Linked DNA regions of Homo sapiens: region 2 is reported to be linked to region 1. The links are microRNA targets in miRTarBase. Many come from high-throughput screens and were not tested one by one. Region 1 holds a microRNA gene; the other region holds the end of a gene's coding sequence.
What was found. Region 1 holds the annotated microRNA hsa-miR-6511a-3p (CCUCACCAUCCCUUCUGCCUGC, at 1,213-1,234, shown strand). A microRNA usually pairs through its seed, bases 2 to 8, with sites in the 3' UTR of a target mRNA and lowers its output. Matches are read on the target gene's strand: a 7mer-m8 pairs with bases 2 to 8, a 7mer-A1 pairs with bases 2 to 7 and ends in A, and an 8mer does both.

Region 1 (4,148 bases):
TTAGGCCCCTACTGGGGTGAGGGAGGGGCCAGGCGTGGGAGGAGTGGACAGGGAAGCTGGGCCCCCTGAACTGCCCCCCACCGCGGCCTGGCTCTTGCTGCTCTGCTGCCCCGAGTGCAGCTGCACTTGGAGGCGGTGCCGTCCTCACCAGGCAGCCCTCAGTGCTGCTGCACCTGTGCTCCGTCCCGCACGTGGCTTGGGAGCCTGGGACCCTTAAGGCTGGGCCGCAGGTGCAGCCGTTCACCCCGGGCTCCTCAGGCGGGGGGCTTCTGCCGAGCGGGTGGGGAGCAGGTGGGGGTGCCGCGGCTGCCCCACTTGGGCCTGTCCCCACAGGTGAGTACGTCCTGACCTTGCTGGCATCTAATGCCTTCGAGAACCGGACGCAGCAGGTGCCTGTGAGCGTGTGCGCCTCCCTGCCCTCTGTGAGCGTGTGCGCCTCCCTGACTGGGGCCTGCTGGTACCCCAGAGTGGGTGTCTGTTCCCCAGTCCCTGCTTTCCTCAGCTGGCCTGATTGGGGGTCTGCCCAGAGGGGTCGTCTGAGGGGAGGGTGTGGGAGCAGGTTCCATCCCGGCTCAGCCTCCTGACCCAGGCCCTGGCTAAGGGCTGCAGGAGTCTGTGAGTCAGGCCTACGTGGCAACTGCGGTCCTCACACCCACACATACGTCTGTTCCCACACGCATCCCCCCAGGGGCCCTCAGTGAGCATTGCCTGCCTCCTGCCAGGGTCCAGCTGGCTCCAGTACACCAGAACGCACACCCCAGTGTCCTCTGCCCTGTGTATGCCCTTCCGCCGCCCAGGTTGGAAGGTGGCAAACCGGATGAGTATCCTGGGAGGGGGTGAGCTCACCGGCAGTGGCCAGGCCCCTGGGAAACCTGGAGTTTGGGAGCAGCATCCTCCACGGGTCCCCCAGACCTTCCAGCAGGCCAAATAGACCTGTGTTGGAGGTAACCCCACTCCCACGCCAGGTGCTGATCCGCAGTGGCCGGGTGCCCATTGTGTCCTTGGAGTGTGTGTCCTGCAAGGCACAGGCCGTGTACGAAGTGAGCCGCAGCTCCTACGTGTACCTGGAGGGCCGCTGCCTCAATTGCAGCAGCGGCTCCAAGCGAGGGGTGAGTGTTGAGCGGGGTGTGGGCGGGTTGGGGATGGGTCCCATGGCCGAGGGGACGGGGCCTGCAGGCAGAAGTGGGGCTGACAGGGCAGAGGGTTGCGCCCCCTCACCATCCCTTCTGCCTGCAGCGGTGGGCTGCACGTACGTTCAGCAACAAGACGCTGGTGCTGGATGAGACCACCACATCCACGGGCAGCGCAGGCATGTGACTGGTGCTGCGGCGGGGCGTGCTGCGGGACGGCGAGGGATACACCTTCACGCTGACGGTGCTGGGCCGCTCTGGCAAGGAGGAGGGCTGCGCCTCCATCCCCCTGTCCCCCAACCGCCCGCCGCTGGGGGGCTCTTGCCGCCTCTTCCCACTGGGCGCTGTGCACGCTCTCACCACCAAGGTGCACTTCGAATGCATGGGTGAGTGCAGGCCTGCGTAGGGGGAGCAGCGGGATCCCCCGACTCTGTGAGGTCACGGAGCCCTCCCGTGATGCCGTGGGGACCGTCCCTCAGGCTGGCATGACGCGGAGGATGCTGGCGCCCCGCTGGTGTACGCCCTGCTGCTGCAGCGCTGTCGCCAGGGCCACTGCGAGGAGTTCTGTGTCTACAAGGGCAGCCTCTCCGGCTACGGAGCCGTGCTGCCCCCGGGTTTCAGGCCACACTTCGAGGTGGGCCTGGCCGTGGTGGTGCAGGACCAGCTGGGAGCCGCTGTGGTCGCCCTCAACAGGTGAGCCAGGCCGTGGGAGGGCGCCCCCGAGACTGCCACCTACTCACCACCCCCCTCTGCTCGTAGGTCTCTGGCCATCACCCTCCCAGAGCCCAACGGCAGCGCAATGGGGCTCACAGTCTGGCTGCACGGGCTCACCGCTAGTGTGCTCCCGGGGCTGCTGCGGCAGGCCGATCCCCAGCACGTCATCGAGTACTCGCTGGCCCTGGTCACTGTGCTGAACGAGGTGAGTGCAGCCTGGGAGGGGACCTCACATCTGCTGCATGCGTGCTGGGGACCAAGACCTGTTCCCCTGCCTGGAGCTTTGCGGAGGGCTCATCCCGGGCCCCAGAGATAAATCCCAGTGACCCTGAAGCAGCACCCCGACGTTCCGCTCCCAGCAGCCACACCCACCGGGCCCTCTCCGGCGTCTGCTTTCCACAATGCAGCCCCCGCCCAGGAGGGCCCATGTGCTTACCCTGTTTTGCCCATGAAGAAACAGCTCAGTGTTGCGGGTCAGTGCCCACATCACACAGCATCTAGCACGTAACTGCACCCCGGGAGTCGTGGGCATCTGCTGGCCTCCTGCCGGCCTCCTGCCCTGCTGACAGCTTGCTGTGCCCCCTGCCTGCCCCAGTACGAGCGGGCCCTGGACGTGGCGGCAGAGCCCAAGCACGAGCGGCAGCGCCGAGCCCAGATACGCAAGAACATCACGGAGACTCTGGTGTCCCTGAGGGTCCACACTGTGGATGACATCCAGCAGATCGCTGCTGCGCTGGCCCAGTGCATGGTAGGATGGCCCCACATGCTCTCCCCGCCCCGCATGCCTGCCAGGGTACTGGGTTCAGCCCCCCAGGGCAGACGGGCAGCTTGGCCGAGGAGCTGAGCCTCCAGCCTGGGCTCCTTCCTGCCATGGCGTTCCTCGGTCTCTGACCTGCTTCAGTAGCCTCAGCCATTCTGCTGTCCTGTGTGAACGCAGGGTGCCTCTCGGGGGACCCAGGGTGTAAAGAGGGGCCCAGATGTGGGGAGGGACTAAGAAGATGCTGCTCTGTGCCCTCCACTCTCCCCTCCCCTCCCCCTTCCCTCCCCTAGCCCCTCCCCTCCCCTTCCCTCCCCTAACCCCTCCCCTCCCCCTTCCCTCCCCTAGTCCCTCCCCCCTCCCCTAGCCCCTGCCTCCTCCCCCAGCCCCTCCCCTCCCCTAGCCCTTCCCCTCCTCCCCTCCCCTAGACCTTCCCCTCACCTCATCCCGCTGAGCCCCTCCACTCCTCCCCCAGCCCCTCCATCCCCTCACCCCTCCCCTCCTCCTTCCTCCCCTCCTCCCCCTCCCTCCTCTCCCCCCTTCTCTCCCCTCCCCTCTCCTCTCCCCCTTCTCTCTCCTTCCCTCTCCTCTCCCCCCTTTTCTCCACTTCCCTCTCCTCTCTCCCTTCTGCCCTCCTCCTTCTCTCATGTGAAGAGGTGCCTTGTGTGGTCGGTGGGCTGCATCACGTGTTCCCCAGGTGGAGGCCCTGGGTCATGCAGAGCCACAAAAAATGCTTAGTGAGGAGGCTGTGGGGGTCCAGTCAAGTGGGCTCTCCAGCTGCAGGGCTGGGGGTGGGAGCCAGGTGAGGACCCGTGTAGAGAGGAGGGCGTGTGCAAGGAGTGGGGCCAGGAGCGGGGCTGGACACTGCTGGCTCCACACAGGGGCCCAGCAGGGAGCTCGTATGCCGCTCGTGCCTGAAGCAGACGCTGCACAAGCTGGAGGCCATGATGCGCATCCTGCAGGCAGAGACCACCGCGGGCACCGTGACGCCCACCGCCATCGGAGACAGCATCCTCAACATCACAGGTGCCGCGGCCCGTGCCCCACGCCACCCGCCCGCCCCACGTGGCCCGTCCGCCCCATGCCGCCCTTTCCTCTGCCTCCCTCCTCCCCACAACCGCCTCGCCTTTGCCCCATCCCATCTTCGTCCCCCTCCCCTCCCCCCAATTCCCATCCTCATCCCCCTCCCCCAATTCCCATCCTCATCCCGCTCCCCCAATTCCCATCCTCATCCCGCTCCCCCAATTCCCATCCTCATCCCCCTCCCCCAATTCCCATCCTTATCCCCCTCCCCCAATTCCCATTCTCCTCCCCCTCCCCCTTCCCTATTACCATCCCTTTTCTCCATCTCTCTCCCCTTTTCTCCATTTCCCCCCCGATCCTCCCCGTCCTTTTGTCCATTCCCCTCATCTTTCTTATCCCCCTTATCCTCCTTCCCCTCCCTTATCCCCCTTCCCCTCCCTTATCCCCCTTATCCCCTTCCCCTCCCTTTCACCCTGCTCCTCTTCTTCTCCCCTTTCTCTTTTCTCTACCCTTTTCCTTCCTTT
Region 2 (4,000 bases), not on the chromosome of region 1:
TTTTCATTTAAGTTTTTTCAATTGTATACTAACTCCATGACCTAAAATGAAAGACAGGACTCAGTGGTGCTTTTTCCGTTTTCAGGAAGTGTTTTAGATCACAGTTTGGAAAGCCTCATCCACCGCCTTCGTGGTTTGTGTGACAACATGGAACCTGAGACTTTCCTTGACCATGAGATGGTATTCCTCCTTAAGGGCCAGCAAGCCAGCCCATTTGTTCTCAGGGCCCGACGCTCTATGGACAGGGCAGGGGCACCCTGGCATCTGCGCTACCTGGGACAGCCAGAAATGGGAGACAAGAACCGCCATGCCCTGGTGCGAAACTGCGTGGACATTGCCACATCTGAGAACCTCACCGACTTCTTGATGGAAATGGGCTTCCGCATGGACCATGAGTTTGTTGCTAAGGGACATTTGTTCCGTAAGGGCATCATGAAGATTATGGTGTACAAGATTTTCCGCATCCTGGTGCCAGGGAACACAGACAGCACTGAGGCCTTGTCACTCTCCTATCTCGTGGAATTAAGTGTGGTAGCACCCGCTGGGCAGGACATGGTCTCTGATGACATGAAGAACTTCGCAGAACAGCTAAAACCTCTGGTTCACCTAGAGAAAATAGACCCCAAGAGGCTCATGTGACTAAGAGGATCTGTCCACATTTGGGGCCTATCCTTACTTGTTTGAAAAAATATGTTTGCTTTTTTTGGTTTTTGTTTTGTTTTGTTTTTGAGACAGAGTCTCGCTTTGTTTCCCAGGCTGGAGTGCAGTGGCACGATCTCGGCTCACTGCAACCTCTGCCTCCTGGGTTCAAGCAATTCTCCCACCTCAGCCTCCTGAGTAGCTGGGATTACAGGCACATGCCACCATGCTCAGCTAATTTTTGTATTTTTAGTAGAAATGGGGATTCACCATGTTGGTCAGGCTATTCTCGAACTCCTGACCTCGTGATCCACCCACCTTGGCCTCCCAAAGTGCTGGGATTACAGGCATGAGCCACCACGCCTGGCCAAAAAAATATGTTTTAAATGTCCCATTTCACCATTGCCAGGCAGGCATTCTTCCTTCAGGGAGAGGATGGTGAGAATTAATTGGTTCTTTGCACTGTTCTCCTCATGTGGCGATTTCACTTTCATGACAGCCTTTCTATATTAAAGGCTCAGGATGTCACGGAGAATCTATCTAATCCCACTGTATTAAGAGGGGAAACCGGGCCAAGCGCAGTGGCTCACACCTCTAATCCCAGCACTTTGGGAGGCTGAGGTAGGTGGATCACCCAAGGTCAGGAGTTTGAGACCAGCCTGGCCAAATGGTGAAACCCCATCTCTACGAAAAATACAAAATTTAGCCGGGCATGGTAGCAGGCGCTTGTAATCCCAGCTACTTGGGAGGCTGAGGCTGGAGAATCGCTTGAACCCAGGAGGTGAAGGTTGCAGTGACCAGAGATGACGCCATTGCACTCCAGCCTGGGTGAGAAGAGCGAAACTCCGTCTCAAAAAAAAATAAAAATGAAGAGGGGAAACCAGAATAAATTATCTTTTGGAAAGGACAATTTCTTGTTTGGCCATTTGTGTATAAGGTTGGTAACATTAGAGGCTGTGAGCTTGTGTTACATGGTAATAAAGCCAATGAAGAGACATGTCTGTGTAATTCTGATTCTTTATTCCCTTACCCTGTAAATTTGGGGTAGATTCATTACCAGTTGAAGCAAAAAAAATGACAGTTCCTAGTTTTAATTGTGGCAGAGATGAGGATGAGAGTTTTCACCTTTCATAAAAGTAGCATATTTATTGTTGAAAACTTTTAAAATATAGTACAGATAGAAAATAACACCTATTATCCAAAGAGAAGTACTAGTTCTATTTTGGTATATATCCATCTAGTCTTTATTTTTTTATAAATTTATGTATATGAAATGTGTTTATTTTATAAAAAGATTCCATATATACTGGTTTATAACCCTTTTTTCCCATTCATCTATCATTAACATCTTTCCAGGACATTTGTCTACACTCCCCTTTTGTTAAAAAAAATTTTTTTTTTTTTTTGAGACAGAGTTTCGCTCTTGTTGCCCAGGCTGGAGTGCAGTACTGCGATGATCTCAGCTCACTGCAACCTCCACCTCCCAGGTCCAAGTGATTCTCCTGCCTCAGCTTCCCAAGTAGCTGGGATTACAGGCATGGGCCACCATGCCCGGCTAATTTTTTTTTTTTTTGAGATGGAGTACAGTGGCGCACTCACGGCTCACTGCAAGCTCCGCCACCCGGGTTCACGCCATTCTTCTGCCTCAGCCTCCCGAGTAGCTGGGACCACAGGCGCCCGCCACCACGCCCGGCTAATTTTTTGTATTTTTAGTAGAGACGGGGTTTCACAGTGTTAGCCAGGATGGTCTCAATCTCCTGACCTCGTGATCCGCCCCGCTCGGCCTCCCAAAGTGCTGGGATTACAGGCGTCAGCCACCGCGCCCGGCCTTAATTTTTTGTATTATATTTTTTATTTTCGAGAAAGGGTCTCACTGTTGTCCACGCTGGAGTGCAGTGGCATTGTGTTTTTAAGAAACGGTGTTTCGGGCAGGGCGCGTTGCTCACGCCTGTAATCCCAGCATTTTGGGAGGCCGAGGTGGGCAGATCATGAGGTCAGGAGATCAAGACCATCCTGGCTAACACGGTGAAACCCCGTCTCCACTAAAAATACAAAAATTAGCCGGGCGTGGTGGCGGCCGCCTATAGTCCCAGCTACTCGGGAGGCTGAGGCAGGAGAATTGCTTGAACCCGGGAGGCGGAGCTTACAGCGAGCTGAGATCGCGTCACTGCAGTACAGCCTGGGCGACAGAGCAAGACTCCGTCTCAAAAAAAAAAAAAAAGAAGAAGGAAACGGTGTTTCACCATGTTGGTCAGGCTAGTCTCGAACTCCCTACCTCAGCCTCACCAAAGTACTGGGATTACAGGCATGAGCCACCGCACCCGGCCAAAATTTTTTTCTTTTTAAAGCTAGTTTATTGAGTTCCTGTTATGTGTCAGTGCTATCCTAAGTGCTTCAGGTATGTTAAACCCGTTTTGTAAACAGGAGAACTGGTACATATAGATTAATTAACTTTCCCTGAGCTATACAGCTACTGATTGGCAGAGCTGGTATTTAAATATTGACAATTATAATTGCTATTTCTATTTCATCATATGGATTTGCTATAAGTTATCTAATTGAATCCTCTATGATTTTCAGTTTGATCCCATTTTTTTTGCTTTTATAAGCTGTGTAACAATAGAGCTTTTATTTATTTATTTTTTTGAGACAGAGTCTTGCTCTGTCGCCCAGGCTGGAGTGCAATGGCATGATCTCAGCTCACTGCAACCTCCGCCTCCTGGGTTCAGGTGATTTCCAGCTAATTTTTGTATTTTTAGTAGAGAGGGGGTTTCACCATGTTGGCCAGGCTGGTCTCGAACTTCTGAACTCAAGTGATCTGCCTGCCTCAGCCTCCCAAAATGCTGGGATTACAGACATGAGCCACTGTGCCTGGCCTGATATGTACTTGTTACTCTATGTAAATCTAACTCATAACTTCCAACTTGCATATGCTTTCATACTAATAAAAGTATTAGTGTTTAAATAGTGTTTGCTCCATGACAGGTACTTTATTTTTATTATTTATTAATTCATTTATTTTTTGAGACAGAGTCTTGCTCTGTCACCCAGGGTGGAGTGCAGTGGTGCCATCTCGGCTCACTGCAACCTCCTTCTCCCGGGTTCAAGCGATGCCCCTACCTCAGCCTCCTGGATAGCTAGGATTACAGGCATGTGCTACCACGCCCAGCTAATTTTGATTTTTTTTTTTTTTTTTTGAGAGGGAGTTTTGCTCTTGTTGCCAGGCTGGAGTGCAATGATGCAATCGCAGCTCACTGCAACCTCTGCCTCCCGGGTTCAAGCGATTCTCCTGCCTCAGCCTCCCGAGTAGCTGGGATTACAGGCGGCCACCACCATGCCCAGCTAATTTTTGTATTTTTAG

Region 2: miRTarBase lists MED18 as a target of hsa-miR-6511a-3p. Seed matches in the 3' UTR shown: 8mer at 1,076-1,083 and 7mer-A1 at 1,467-1,473.

What each region holds. Positions count from the first base shown.
Region 1 is chr16:18,341,101-18,345,248 of GRCh38, reverse strand. It overlaps MIR6511A4 (microRNA 6511a-4), which reads left to right and starts at 1,170; the gene lies at 1,170-1,236. It also overlaps the pseudogene PKD1P4-NPIPA8 and the pseudogene PKD1P4. RefSeq lists an enhancer at 2,450-3,241.
Region 2 is chr1:28,334,332-28,338,331 of GRCh38, forward strand. It overlaps MED18 (mediator complex subunit 18), which reads left to right. Exons shown (of 3, transcript NM_017638.3): 3 at 86-1,634. The coding sequence ends at 639. Among named protein-coding and RNA genes, the nearest start is that of MED18, 7.3 kb to the left of the region's middle.